4 linked regions of the Homo sapiens genome follow. The protein of the gene in region 4 purifies or fractionates together with the protein of the main gene of each other region. This does not show direct contact. Each region holds a gene or a part of one and is shown on either strand. Other genes may lie near its edges.

Region 1 (3,500 bases), about 16 Mb from region 4:
ACAGTCGCTTGAGCCCAGGAGGCAGAGGTTGCAGTGTGCCAAGATCGCATCACTGCACTCCAGCCTGGGTGACAGAGTGAGACTTTATCTAAAAAAAAAAAAAAAAAATCAAGTGGCTGGGCACAGTGGTTTATGCCTGTAATCCCAGTGCTTTGGGAGGCTGGGGCAGGAGGATCCCTTGAGCCTAGGAATTCGAGGTTGCAGCGAGCTATGATTGTGCCACTGTGCTCCAGCCTGGGCGTCAGAGTGAGACCTTATCTCTAAACAGATTAAGAGAGACATCAGGTGGGGGGCGGCGACGGATAGCATTAGGAGATATACCTAATATAAATGACGAGTTAATGGGTACAGCACACCAAAATGGCACATGTATACATATGTAACCTGCACGTTGTGCACATGTACCCTAGAACTTTAATTAAAAGATCAGGAATTATGAACTGTTTATAGTAATTTTGCTATAATTTGTCATCTTTCAGTTAAAGAATTTTGTTATCCAAAGGAGAACATTTTGTTATTAAAAAGCATTGTTTTTCTACAATTGCCAATACATCCAAACAGGTAAAACTAATTAAGAGTGTTTTGTTGTTTCAGAACACCGAAAAGCTTTGGAGGATTTCACTCTTGATAATATTCTTTCTCATATTTATTATTTTCGCTGTCGTGACTACACAGAGTTACTGGCACAAGTTTATCTTCTTCCAGATTTCCTTTCAGAACACTCAAAGGTATGAGTCAGACTACTGAAATGTAACTAACCAAGTATTTTTTGAGGTGTTTGATAAGCATGAAAAAATAACCAGTACAGTAGCATAAAATCAAAGTCAAAGCCAATTGAGAAAATCTCTTCCTTCCTTGACCTACAATTTATTTATATTTATATTTGTTTTGTGTATGTATATGTATATATAGTTTATGCTCAGAGTAAGAAATTGAAATAATATAGAAGTTTCATTTCCAGTAATAGTGGAATAGCTCCTATCAAACCACATTGTATAGAAAGGTATGAAATGAAAAATAAAAACTTCCTTGTGCTACTGTTTTCTAGTGCCTCTCCCCAAAGGTGATCACTATTGGCCAGGTGCAGTGGCTCATACTTGTAATCCCAGCACTTAGGGAGGCCATGGTGGGAGGATCATTTGAGCCCAGTAGTTCAAAACCAGCCTGGGCAACATAGTAAGACATTGTCCCCACCAAAAAAAAAATTAGCCGTGTGTGGTGTAGCTGTAGTCTCAGCTACCAAGGGCTGGGTGGAGCAGGCCTGAGGTGGGAGGATTGCTTGAGCCCAGCAGTTCAAGGCTACATTGAGCTACCGTGCCATCATGTATCACCTTTTTTTTTTTTTTTTTTTTTTTTTTTGGGTAGAAATGGAGTCAACTCCTGGGGTTAAGCGATTCTCCCACCTCAGCCTCCCAGAGTGCTGGGATTATAGGCATGAGCCACTGTGCCTGGCCCTTTAATTTTGGTAAACATTATCAGTGACAAAGATTCTCCTTGACTGAACTTGGCCCCATCCTGTCTTTGGCCTACCCAGTCCAGTCTTAGCAAAGAATCCTGCTGTCAGTTCAGAGAGATTCTCTCACATTTGATAGTCTGAGCACCTTTGATACCTGATCACGTTCCTCATTCCCCACCTTTGATATTTAAATCCTTGGCTTGCCTTTATTTATTTATTTTTTATTTTTTAATTTGATGGAGTCTGGCTCTGTCGCCCAGGCTGGAGTGCATTGGCGTGATCTTGGTTCACTGCAACCTCTGCTTCCCGGGTTAAGGCAATTCTCCTGCCTCAGCCTCCCAAGTAGCTGGGACTACAGGCATGCGCCACAACGCCTGGCTAATTTTTTTTTTTTTTTATATTTTTGGTAGAAACAGGGTTTTGCATGTTGGCCAGGCTGCTCACCTGGCTGGCCTGCCATTAGTAAGAATCCTGTTCGGTCAGTTTAGCAAGAATTTCCCTACCCTTGATGTCTCACTGTTAGTAATTGTTCATCCACTGACCCCTTCACCTTGCTCTTGGTTGTGAATCCCCAGTTGTCCTTGTATTCTGATTTGAACCCAGTCTCTCTCCCCTATTGTGATACCCCTATTAGAATAGTCTTGAATACAGTCTCCTTACTGTTTTAAGAAGTGTTAGAATAATTTTTTCTTGAACACATATCGCCCTTCAGAAAGACTGCACCAATTTCTACTCTTACTGACAATATATGAGAATGCCTATTACCCATCATCCTGACCTTTTGAATATTTTTGCCAAGATTCTGCATGGAAAATGCCATCTCTTTGTTATTTTATTTATTTTAATTAATTAATTAATTTTTTTTTTGAGTCGCCCAGTCTGACTAACATGGCAAAACCCCGTCTCTACCTAAAAATACAAAAATTAGCCTGGTGTGTTGGCATGCACCTGTGATCCCAGCTACTTGGGAGGCTGAGACAGGAGAATCGCTTGAACCTGGGAAGCAGAGGTTGCAGTGTGCTGAGATCGTGACACTGCACTCCAGCCTGGGAGACAGAGAGACTCTGTCTCAAAATTAATAAATAAAAATTAAATAAATAAATACAATAGAAATTAATTTTCTTAGAGTTCTGGAGCCTAAAAGTTCAAGATCAAAGTTCTAGCTGATTCAGTTTCTGGCAAGGGCTTTCTTCCTGGCTTGCAGACAGCCATCTTTTCTCTGTGTCCTCATATGATAGGGAGGAAAAGAAGGAGAGAGTGAATTCCCTGGTGTTTTTTCTTTTTTTTGGGGGGGGGGTGGAGTTTCGCTTTTGTCACCCAGGCTGGAGTGCAATGGCGTGATCTCAGCTCACTACAACCTCCACCTCCCGGATTCAAGCGATTCTCCTGCCTCAGCCTCCAGAGTAGCTGGGACTACAGGCGCATGCCACCACGCCTGGCTAATTTTTGTATTTTTAGTAGAGACAGGGTTTCCCCATGTTGGCCAAGATGTTCTCGATCTCCTGATCTTGTGATCCGCCCACCTCGGCCTCCCAAAGTGCTGGGATTACAGGCGTGAGCCACCGTGCCTGACCCCTAATATTTCTTCTTACAAGGACGCTAATCATCTTAGATTAGGGTCCCATCTTTATGAACTTATTTGATTACTTCCTTAGAAGTCCTTTCTCCACATACATTCACATTGGGGTTTAGGGATTCAACATACGAATTTTAAGGGGACATAATTGAGTTCCCAGAAGTTTGCCCCTGGCCCCTTGCCCCCCTACCCCCTACCTGCCCGCCAAATTCATGTTTTTCTTGTATCCATTCCATCCACACAGCCCCAAACGTCTTAACCGGTTCCATCATCAACTCTAAAAGTCCCAGGCTTCATCTAAATATTATCTAAATCAGAGATTGGTGAGACTCAAGTTATAATTCATCCTGAAGTGAAATTCCCTTCCAGCTGTGAACGTTTGAAATCAGGCAAGTTATATGCTTTCAAAATACAATAGTAGGAAATGCATAGGATGAACATTCCCAAAAGGATTATGGGTGCCTAGCA
Region 2 (3,500 bases), about 42 Mb from region 4:
GTACGTGTTAAAGCCAGGTGATGGGTATATAGGGTTTACTGTACTATAGTCTGTCTTCTTAATGTGTGTTTAAAATTTTCCATAATAAAAAATCTTTTAAAAAGAATCACTATGTTTAGAAGTTTGGGGTTTTACCCAGAATAGAGATTCTAATTGTGGGGGGATCTGCCATGTAGTAAGTAACTGTTACCTTGGAGTTAGCCTTCTGCTCCCTCTAGGACAAATAGTTCTTGGTTTATTTAGCGAAAATTTTTTGCATTTTGGGATTCTTAATTCTTTTTGAGATGTTTGGAACAGTCCACTGCATTACTTACCCTGTTGTCAATTATGTCTGTGAAATTTGATATTCTGATTGTGAAAGGATATTTTTGACTAGTACCTTGGAATCACATTTGAATAACAAGTTTTATGATTAAATTTGGTATTAAAAATCCAAGCTTCAGTTATACCGTGTATTATATTATACAACAGTTTCATTCTTAGAAAGCTTCATATACACTTAATTGAACTGAATTAAATTTTAATTGTATTAGGAGAGTTCATTATTTAAGTCAAACTATAGATAATTCTTATATAAAATAGCCCTTTGGTTTATATGCAGATAGGTAAAATTTATGCCAATATACCTGAGCAACTGTTTTATGGTATTCTAACGTTTAACACATGATGGAAGGCAGATACAATTTTGAGGCGGGAAAGCTATTTGTTATATCACTGTCTCTTTATTTCAGAATGAGAGGAAATAGAAAATAGGTAGGAAGGAAGATAAAAGTCATTTAAATATAGTATTTCAAATATTTTTTTGCTGCTATTATATTGGATAACAAAAAACAAATACTGGCTTCATTTCTATTCTCTGGCAAGAGGATGAACAATCATATAAACTCAAACTACAGAAACTTAAAAGTTTTTGTATTTTTCAAGTTTATTCTCAAAATTGCTTAAAAATACAAACTTACAAGAAAAATTACTATGTCTCATTTCTATCATAAACAGAAGGTCTTATCACAGGAAATTTAAAAACCAAACAAGTCATGCCTTTTAGCTTTGATCTCTGTGGTTTGCACTGTGCACCCATTATACTTTCCAGCTATATCTTACCAGATTAGTTTGCCTCTGACAAATACAAAAGTTCCCAAAGATTGATTAGAGTAGAGGTGATAATTGAAGTGTAATACACAAGAAAATGCAAAGTAAAACAAGTATTTTAATGTGTAGGTTTCAGAGAATATAAACAACATTAACTGAAGACAATAAAATACCATATAGTCTACAAAGTAGAAGAGGAGAAAAAGGAGGAAAAAGGGAAGAAGAAACTAGATTCTGAAGCAAAGTTCAGCCAATTTAAGGTATAACTTAATAAAGTATGCTAAACCTAACAGACAGATATAAACCAGTAAGTCCACGTGGTAGCAGCCATAAAGTGAAAACAGGTTTACTGGTTCTAACTCAGGATGTTCTGGGCATCAACAAGGCAGTCTATCAAATTATAGCAATCCCACCTAAAAATGATGAAATTAATTGTATTTACATATCCCAAAAAGGAAAGCTAAGGTTCAGATGTTTCAAATACCCCCAAAAGATCAAGAAATACCTAAAATAAAATTTGACATTATCAATAATATGAGAAACACATGAAGGCATTTTCCATAAGAGTCCACTCACATGTTTCCAGGGGATCCCTTCCCGCTGGTATTCCTCTTGTTCTTGCTTCAGAACCAGCTGAATAAATAGCTGCTGCAGTTTCTCATTGCAGTAATTGATACAGAATTGTTCAAAACTACAAGAAAAGGAATAAATTAAGTTTCAACAAATAGAAAACAGGCAACAAGGTTTTAAGTATCTTTTCCAGTTTACCTGTTGTTGTCAAAGATTTCAAAGCCATAGATATCCAAGACACCAATAACAGTGTTTTTCCCATGGATTGTGGTGTCATAGTTCTTGACCTCAATAATATCATTGATGCGAGTAACGATCCAACAAAAAAGGCGCTCATATATTGCCTGCAAGGAAAATAGCATCATAAATGCTTGCCAATTTGGGAATGAGTCCTCTGTTTGGATTTGTGATCAGTTTTAAATTCCTGTCCACCTTCTCACTGTTTAGCATAGCCATTACTGGCCTCAGCAGAACAAATGAAAATGTAGACTGTCCATTTAAAAAAACCCAAACTACCTGATGTATGCAAAACTAAAGTAAATAGCTTGTATTTTTAAAAGATTATTACCGGTCATTATACCAATTCCAACGACACTCTCCAGGCATGTTTCCCTGCCCGGCTATATCAATAGTTTGCCTGATCCCTTGAATAAGCCAGTTCATTGCTTTATTATTAATTTCATCAACTATAAAGAGTTGAGAGCTAGTGAGTTAATATCTATGATCCACTAAAGCTATATGAATTCTAAAAAATATAAATATTGATTTCTAATGCTAAATGAAGATCTGAGCCAAAGATCAAGGGTTGAAATTCCCTGAGAATCGAACACACATCCAATGCACAAGAACACACACACTAAGCCACACATGGACAAAGGTGCCACACGCTAACACACATTCACATCCCGATACACATGTGCTCTGCAACGTCACATCGTTAGAAAACCTTCCTTAACGTCTCCTGCCAGCTACCCACTCTCTTCACCCATATCCATTACCTCCCCTTTACTCTTCAATCCACTCCAGTCTCCACTTACATCCTATTACTCCATTGAAATGGCTCATCAAAGACTCCCAGCACCTCTACATAGATACTTCTCGTACCTCATATGGACATCTTGCTCTGTCGCTCAGCATCACTCAACCTAGGTTTTCACTGCCTTCTTGGAACACTCTTCTCTCTGGATTTCGGATAATAGCCTTTCTGAATTTTACTCTTTGTTCACTGGATGTTCCTTTTTGGTGACCTTTGGTAGAGTCTCCTCTTCTACCTGACTTGTAAAAGTTGGAGTTCTTCCTGGTCCTCTTCTCTTCACTCTCTAGCACCTTCTAAATCATCTCACCCAGGATTAAATAATACAAATATAATATGACTCCCAAAAGTATTATCCAAATCCAGACTCAGAGAACAGTCTCTGAGCTCCTGACTCAAGAGCTTGACTGTCTACCTGACACTGACTCTTCAATGGCTCACAGCCATCTCAAACTCAAAGGACTCTTGATCTTTCCTCTTCCAACAACTGTTCCTATCCTACTTTTAGCCACAAATAAATAGCACCACTTAGAAATTCACTGATTTATTCAACAAATATTTGCTGAATACTTATTATATATAGTTTGTTAGAGATACAGGTCTAGGCAAACACAAACATAGTCTCAATGTCCAAGAAACTTAGGGAATAGAGTGAAGGAAAAAATTATTCTCTCTGTCTCTCTCACTTGCCCCCCACCTCGCAGATAAACATCCACACTAAAGGAGAGGTACATGGGGTCTTAGGGAAATTTAATCTATGCAGTGCTCAGGAAGGTTAGGGAAGGCCTCTCTGGGAAAGTGATACTTG
Region 3 (3,500 bases), on a different chromosome or scaffold from region 4:
CACTCCAGCCTGGGCAAAAAGATGAGACTCCGTCTCAAAAAAAAAAAAAAAAAAAATTGGGAAACTAAAATAAGTGATTCTAGCTTTATATCAGGTTGGTGGCATAACCATGTGAAGACCTGCAAAATTCTTTTTTTTTGAGACTGAGTTTTGCCCTTGTTGCCCAGGCTAGAGTGCAGTGGTGCAATCTCGGCTTAATGCAACCTCTGCCCCCCAGGTTCAAGCGATTCTCCTGCCTCAGCCTCCCAAGTAGGTGGGATTACAGGTGCCTGCCACCATGCCTGGCTAATTTTTTTGTATTTGTAGTAGTGACAGAGTTTCACCGTGTTGGCCAGGCTAGTCTCAAACTCCTGACCTCAGGTGATCCACCTGTCTCATCCTCCCAAAGTGCTGGGATTACAGACGTGAGCCACCATGCCTGGCCTAATAGTTTTCTTTTTAACTGAAAGTTGATATTGTCATTTGAATCTACTATAGGATAGAGTAAATTAATTGTATTAATGTTGTTAGGCACCAAGATTTTTCAGCATTAGAGTGAAAAGATAGACTTGCCTATATCAGTATGAACTCATGATTTCCTTTCATAAAACATTTGCATTTCCTAGTTCTGGCCAATGAAAAGGCCTGGAAGCAGTGATAACACAGTAGCAGTGAATACCCCATCCTCACAGATTGTGATCTCTAAATACAATTCTTCACTAAAAGGAACCACTTCCTTGGAGAAGTGGTCAACTCTAGGTCTGGGACAGAAAATGTACAAGTTGAGGTAGCAACTTTTGTGCCAGAAAGCAAAGCTATAAAAGACTAATGAGATTTTGTTAAAGGGTCGTAGGAAGCAACTTGAAGAGATTCACACCAACCTAAGATGGGAACATTAAGAATTATGAATAGAAAGATAAAGCATGTCAAGTATATAAATGCTCCCCCGAAAAATCCCCCCTCCGTTTAAACCTAACTGGTCAGCATTGGTGGTTGATGGAGTCCTCACTCATTACTTTGAAAATTGATAAATAAAGGGAAGGAGTCAAGCATTTATCTTGCCTTTCTTATACAAACTGTTTCTCAGAGTAACCAAGTGGTTGATGAGAAAAAGAATTTTATAGACGAATTCCAGTTAATAAATGGAGAATGGATGCTGGATCAGACAATTACCATTTTGTAATCCTCAAGAAATGGATCTAGGCCACTGGTTCTCAAACTTTACCAAGCATCAGAATCATCTGAAAAGCTCGTTAAAATCCAGATTGCAGCTCTCTTTCCAAATGTTCGGATTCATTAGATCAGCGGTAGGGCCCAATAATTTGCATTTTTAACAAATTCCCCAGTGATACTGATGCTGCAAATCTGGGGACCCCCCTTTAAGAACCACTGATCTAGGCAGATGATCATCAAAAGATGCTGAAACCTTTAGCTGAACTGTTTGATGACTGTTAATGGGGAACTTTATAATCAGGCTGTTGTCATCTGACTCTACTGACCAATTTTTATTAGGCCCAGTTCTCTAGAACCTTGCTACAGGAAGCATGGGCCCAACCAAGACCAACTATATTGGCATCACTCCTGAGCCAGTACAGAAATGCATCTCAGGCCCTACCCAACTTACTGAATCAGAATCTGTATTTTAGCTAGATCTTCAGATGATTTATATGCACTTTTTTTTTTCCAGAGTCTTGCTCTGCTGCCCAGGCTAGAATGGAGTGGTGTAATCATGGCCCACTGTAGCCTCAATCTCCCAGGCTCAAACAATACTCCTGCCTCAGTATCCCAAGTAGCTGGGACTATAGGCGCATGCCACCATGCCTGGCTAATTTTTGTATGTTTTGTAGAGATGGGGGTCTCACTATGTTGCCCAGGCTGCTCTCCAACTCCTGGGCTCAAGAGATCCAACCGCCTTGGCCTCCCAAAGTGCTGGGATTACAGGCCTCAGCCACCATGCCTGGCCTGTATGCACATTATTTATTTATTTACTTATTTATTTATTTTTTTTGAGATGGAGTTTCACTCTTGTTGCCCAGGCTGGAGTGCAATGGTACAATCTCGGCTCACTGCAACCTCTGCTTCCTGGGTTCAAGCGATTCTCCTGCCTCAGCCTCCCAAGTAGCTGGGATTATAGGCACCTGCTACCACACCTGGCTAAATTTTTTTATTTTTAGTAGAGACGTGGTTTCACCATGTTGGCCAGGCTGGTCTCGAACTTCTGACCTCAGGTGATTCACCCTCCTTGGCCTCCCAAAGTGCTGGGATTACAGGTGTGAGCCACCACACCCGGCCATGTATGCACATTAATGTTTGAGAAGCACTACTCTAGAAAACCCAGTCTGGCTGGGCGCGGTGGCTCATGCCTGTAATCCCAGCGCTTTGGGAGGCCAAGGTGGGTGGATCACTTGAGCCCAGGAGTTCAGGATGAGCCTGGGCAGTATGGCAAAACCCCATATCTATTTAAAAAACAAAAAACAAAAAAAAAACTATGGCAAAGTTATGTGCTACACTTCATTAGGGTATGCAGTCCCAAGGCTGCAGGAGTAGGGGAGAAAGGGAAATGAGACAGGGAAGGAGTTAAAGCAAGTATGATGGGATATACTGAGGTGACCACAAATCCACAAAATATAGCCAACTTGCTTGGTCATGTGTGCAAAATTTTTGTCTCCAGAAAGGCTGTATGGAACATTTGTACTTCAGAACAGTCTGTTGTGTGGAGACAGGGTAAGAAGTTTACTACAGCCTCTTAGCCTGTTTGGGTTGAATCTGAGTGCCAGAGCTCCTCCATGTGCTGCCGCAGTGCATGGTGGAAGCCATGTGGAAGTATGGCCCTTAACTCTGCAGATTCAAAGACAACCAGTGGCGTTAGGAGATGAGGTCTCTTCATTGAATAGTTGAGGCGTGGCAGCAGGAAGAGTTAGGTAGATACAAGGAGGCACATGACTGAATCCAGTACAATCTCAGTATCACTAAGAGTAGAACAGAGAGATATTTATGTGTCTCCTGGTGAGTTATTATACAGTAGGAACTGTGCTGTACATATCTTCTACGAAAGTTAAAAAAACTTCAAACTCAGAATTTAGTCAGTCTTTTACATGAGTAGTTCTCAAATGTGGCTGCACAATAGAATGACCTGGGGAGCTGTTAAAAAACCCAGATATCCAATCCAAGTATTGGGTATTAAATGATATTAAGAAGTTAATTTTGTGAGATGAAGTGGCATGGTGGTGATTATGTTTTTAAAAAAATATACTCACTGGTTAGAGATGCATAATCAAGTATAGAGCAATATGATAATGACATCTAGTTTTTGCGTTGGAATGTTGTGGCATGAAAGATAAAAGTGGGGAATAGATAAAATTGGCTCTGAGTTAATAGTTACTTAAGCTTGATGATGAGTGCATAGGTGGATTATCATACTTTTTCTCTATTTTTTGTGTATGTTTGAAATTTTTCATTCAAAAAATTATACCAGAAGGAAAGAGGCAAAATTTCCCAATTGCCAAGACCAAGAAAATAAT
Region 4 (3,500 bases):
AAAATTAGCCGCGAATGGTGGCATGTGCCTGTAATCCCAGCTACGGGAGGCTGAGGCAGGAGAATCGCTTGCACCCGGGAGACGGAGTTTGCAATGAGCCTAGATCTTGCCACTGCACTCCAGCCTGGACGACAGAGCGAGAATCCATCTCAAAAAAAAAAAAAAAAAGAAAAAAGAAAAAAAGAAAGAAAATGCCACTTTCTGCAACAGTCTGGTTAAGGTTGAGTTGCTCTGGGGCTAGGAGTGGGATGGGGTGGTACTGTCTTCAAGACACAATGTATATGGATGCAAAGGGTTAACCTTCCTACCCTCCTTCTCCCCACCTGCTGCCCCAGCTGCTCCAGGGCCCAAGTTCCCCCTGGCACATGCTTCTAGGGGCACACAGCTCCTGCCCTGCCTCTCAGGGGCCAGCGGCCAGGACCCACTGGTCTGGTGCCTTGTAGCCCTGGAGGCGGGAGAGGGTAGGTAAGACACAGGTCTGGTAGTCATGTTCACCTAGGGTGATTGTGAAAAACACGAATTGCTAGGCCCTGCCCCAGGCATCTAGTTCAGCATTTGCAGGAGAGAGGCCTGGGAGTCTGTGTATTTTTAAGGAAGATCCCAGGTTTCAGAAACGCTGGTTGAGAGATTAAGTTCCCTCACTTTAAATCAATGGTCCTCAAAGTTGGCTACACATGGAATTGCCTGGAGAATTAAAGAAAAAAAGCATATACTGATGAGAGATTCTGATGTAGTTGTTCTGGGGTTCAAACAGCATTGTGATTTCACAAAGCCCTGCAGGTGTTTCTAAATGTGCAGTCAGGACTAACAATCACTGCTTTAGAGCCAGACATGCCTGGTGGTTCTGCCTGAACTGAAGAACTGTGACCTTTGGCCCTGTATTAATACTTCATCTCTCCAGGCCTCAGTTTCTTCATCTCGAAAATGGGCTCATGCCTATAATCCCAGCACTTTGGGAGGCTGAGGCAGGAGGATCACTTGAGCCCAGGAGTTTGAGACAAGCCTGGGCAACATAGTGAGACCCTCAACTCTACAAAAAAAAAAAAATTAGTCTGATGTGGTAGTGTCTGCCTGTGGTCCCAGTTACTCAGAAGGCTGAGGTGGGAGGATTGCTTGAGCCTGGGAGGTTGAGGCTGCAGCAAGCTGTGTTCATGCCACTGCACTCCAGCCTGGATGACAGAGCAAGACACTGTCTCATAAAAAGAAATGTTAGTGAGAATTGTGATCACTCTTTGGGAGTGGTGCTGGGCATGCAGGAAGCACGCCTGGAAACTGTTGTTCATAGTGCTTGCAACCTGGTCAGTCTTTACATATTCTGGATGCAAGTTCTTTATCAAATAGATAATTTGCAGATATTTTATCCAAGTCTGTGGCTTCTCTTTTTGTTAACATTGTTGGCCGGGCATGGTGGCGCATACCTGTAATCCCAGCTACTCTGGAGGCTGAAGCAGGAGAACCACTTGAACGCAGGAGGCGGAGGTTGCAGTGAGCAGATATGCCACTCCACTCCAGCATGGGTAACAAAATGAGATTCCATCTCAAAAAAAAAGAAAGAAAAGAAAAGAAAGAATGAATAAGACCTACTATTTGATAGGACAACAAGGTGACAACAGTCAGCAATAACTTAATTGTACATTTAAAAATAACTAACAGGCCGGGCGCGGTGGCTCACGCCTGTAATCCCAGCATTTTGGGAGGCCAAGGTGGGTGGATCATGAGGTCAGGAGATCGAGACCATCCTGGCTAACACGGTGAAACCCCATCTCTACTAAAAATACAAAAAATTAGCCGGGTGTGGTGGTGGGCACCTGTAGTCCCAGCTACTTGGGAGGCTGAGGCAGAAGAATGGCGTGAACCCGGGAGGCGGAGCTTGCAGTGAGCTGAGATCGTGCCACTGCACTCCAGCCTGGGTGACAGAGGGAGACTCCGTCTCAAAATAAATAAATAAATAAAAATAACTAACAAAGGATAAATTCTTGAGGGGATGGATACCCCATTCTCCATGATGTGACTATTAATATCTAGTATTTGATAGCACAACAGGGTGACTATAGTCAAAATAATTTAATTATACATTTAAAAATAGCTGAAAGAGTATAACTGGATTGTTTGTAACACAAAGGATAAATGCTTGAGGGGATGGATGGATACCCCATTTCCCATGATTGTATATTGTATATTGCATGCCTATAGCAAAACATCTCCTGTGCCCCATAAATATATACACCTACTATGTAACCACAAAAATTAAAAATTAAAAAAAAATAGCAAAACCTGCTCACAGGCAAACCTGCTCACGTAATCCTGTTTTTGAGATAGAGTCTTGCTCTGTCATCCAGGCTGGAGTGCAGTGGCACAATCTCGACTCACTGCAACGTCTACCTTCCAGGTTTAAGCGATTCTCCTACCTCAGCCTCCTGAGTAGCTGTGATTACAGGCACGTGCCACCATGCCTGGATAATTTTTGGTATTTTTAGTAGAGATGGGTTTTCGCCATGTTGGCCAGGCTGGTCTTGAACTCCTGACCTCAAGTGATCCACCGGCCTCGGCCACCCAAAGTGCTGGGATTATAGGCATGAGCCACAATGCCCGGCCTAATCTCTTGGGCGTTGAAAGGCCTTTGGTTGTAAATCTACCAAGGCAAGCTCTCCTTCAGTTTATCTTCCTCCCACCAGCACCAGCCACTCATCCACATCTTTTGTCCTAAGGCTCTGTGCAACCCCAGGAGCCTTGCACAGATCCTCAATCTGAGCCCCTGGAAACTTGCTATCAAAGGCACAATTTCTGAAAGTGCAGGTGGCTGGCAGACGGAAATCTCTGCTAATTCCATGGTGTGATATGGCAGGTACACAGGTCAAAGCGCCAACCACTGAACTCATTGAGAAAGCCCTCAGACCCAGTGGAGTCTAGTGATGTCATGGGGGAGTCAGAAAGGTCAAGGGCAATATGTGGGAATGGCCCAGCCCATTGCATTTTTACAACTTCTAATCAGCATCAGTGAGAAACCCTTCCTTGCGTGGCCTGTGAACCCCGCCTCTGATGCTGCTGGAGCACTTTCATTTCACTTCTCAGCATCCTGTGGGTGTGTCAGGTCTCAGAAAGACTAAGTGGCCCTGCCTAGGTCACGCAGCTGGTGACGGGAGGCCCAGAACTTGAAATCAGGGCCGAGCCCAGCCCACTTCCCAATTCCCTGCTGTGTCCCATGACCAGTAGCACGCGTCAGAGGCTTTCCCAAAGGCCTCCATGTCCCGCCTGTTGGGGAAGCCCCTGGCTTTCTCTCTGTCTGGGATTGACTCTCAGCTCTGTCCTGGTTGGAGAGAAGAGATTTCCAGGATGGTACCCAGACAGTGGTGGAGGCCAGAGTCTGGCAACCAACGAGCCTTTTGGACAATTGGGTGGGGAGTTGGGTCATTGGGTTGGAGAGGAGGGGTTCAAGAAGAGGCCCAGGGGTCTCAAATCTGTGTCCTGTGTGTTTCATGCCCAGCATGGCAGGGAATTTA

Evidence for each region.
Region 1: the proteins of DNAI2 (region 4) and RAD51C purify together in Homo sapiens (affinity purification with mass spectrometry; one large-scale study listed by BioGRID and IntAct). This does not show direct contact.
Region 2: the proteins of DNAI2 (region 4) and MYO1D purify together in Homo sapiens (affinity purification with mass spectrometry; one large-scale study listed by BioGRID and IntAct). This does not show direct contact.
Region 3: the proteins of DNAI2 (region 4) and EIF2A purify together in Homo sapiens (affinity purification with mass spectrometry; one large-scale study listed by BioGRID and IntAct). This does not show direct contact.

The regions. Positions count from the first base shown.
Region 1 is NC_000017.11:58,702,602-58,706,101, forward strand, and holds part of RAD51C (DNA repair protein RAD51 homolog 3), read left to right. Parts: intron 1-594; coding exon 595-728; intron 729-3,276; coding exon of another isoform or gene 3,277-3,291; exon of another isoform or gene 3,292-3,416; intron 3,417-3,500. UniProt on the Homo sapiens protein: Essential for the homologous recombination (HR) pathway of DNA repair. Involved in the homologous recombination repair (HRR) pathway of double-stranded DNA breaks arising during DNA replication or induced by DNA-damaging agents.
Region 2 is NC_000017.11:32,758,625-32,762,124, forward strand, and holds part of MYO1D (unconventional myosin-Id), read right to left. Parts: intron 2,004-3,500; coding exon 1,858-2,003; intron 1,781-1,857; coding exon 1,666-1,780; intron 1,503-1,665; coding exon of another isoform or gene 1,488-1,502; exon of another isoform or gene 1,188-1,487; intron 1-1,187. UniProt on the Homo sapiens protein: Unconventional myosin that functions as actin-based motor protein with ATPase activity. Plays a role in endosomal protein trafficking, and especially in the transfer of cargo proteins from early to recycling endosomes.
Region 3 is NC_000003.12:150,553,287-150,556,786, forward strand, and holds part of EIF2A (eukaryotic translation initiation factor 2A), read left to right. Parts: intron 1-3,500. UniProt on the Homo sapiens protein: Functions in the early steps of protein synthesis of a small number of specific mRNAs. Acts by directing the binding of methionyl-tRNAi to 40S ribosomal subunits.
Region 4 is NC_000017.11:74,277,234-74,280,733, forward strand, and holds part of DNAI2 (dynein axonemal intermediate chain 2), read left to right. Parts: intron 1-3,500. UniProt on the Homo sapiens protein: Part of the dynein complex of respiratory cilia.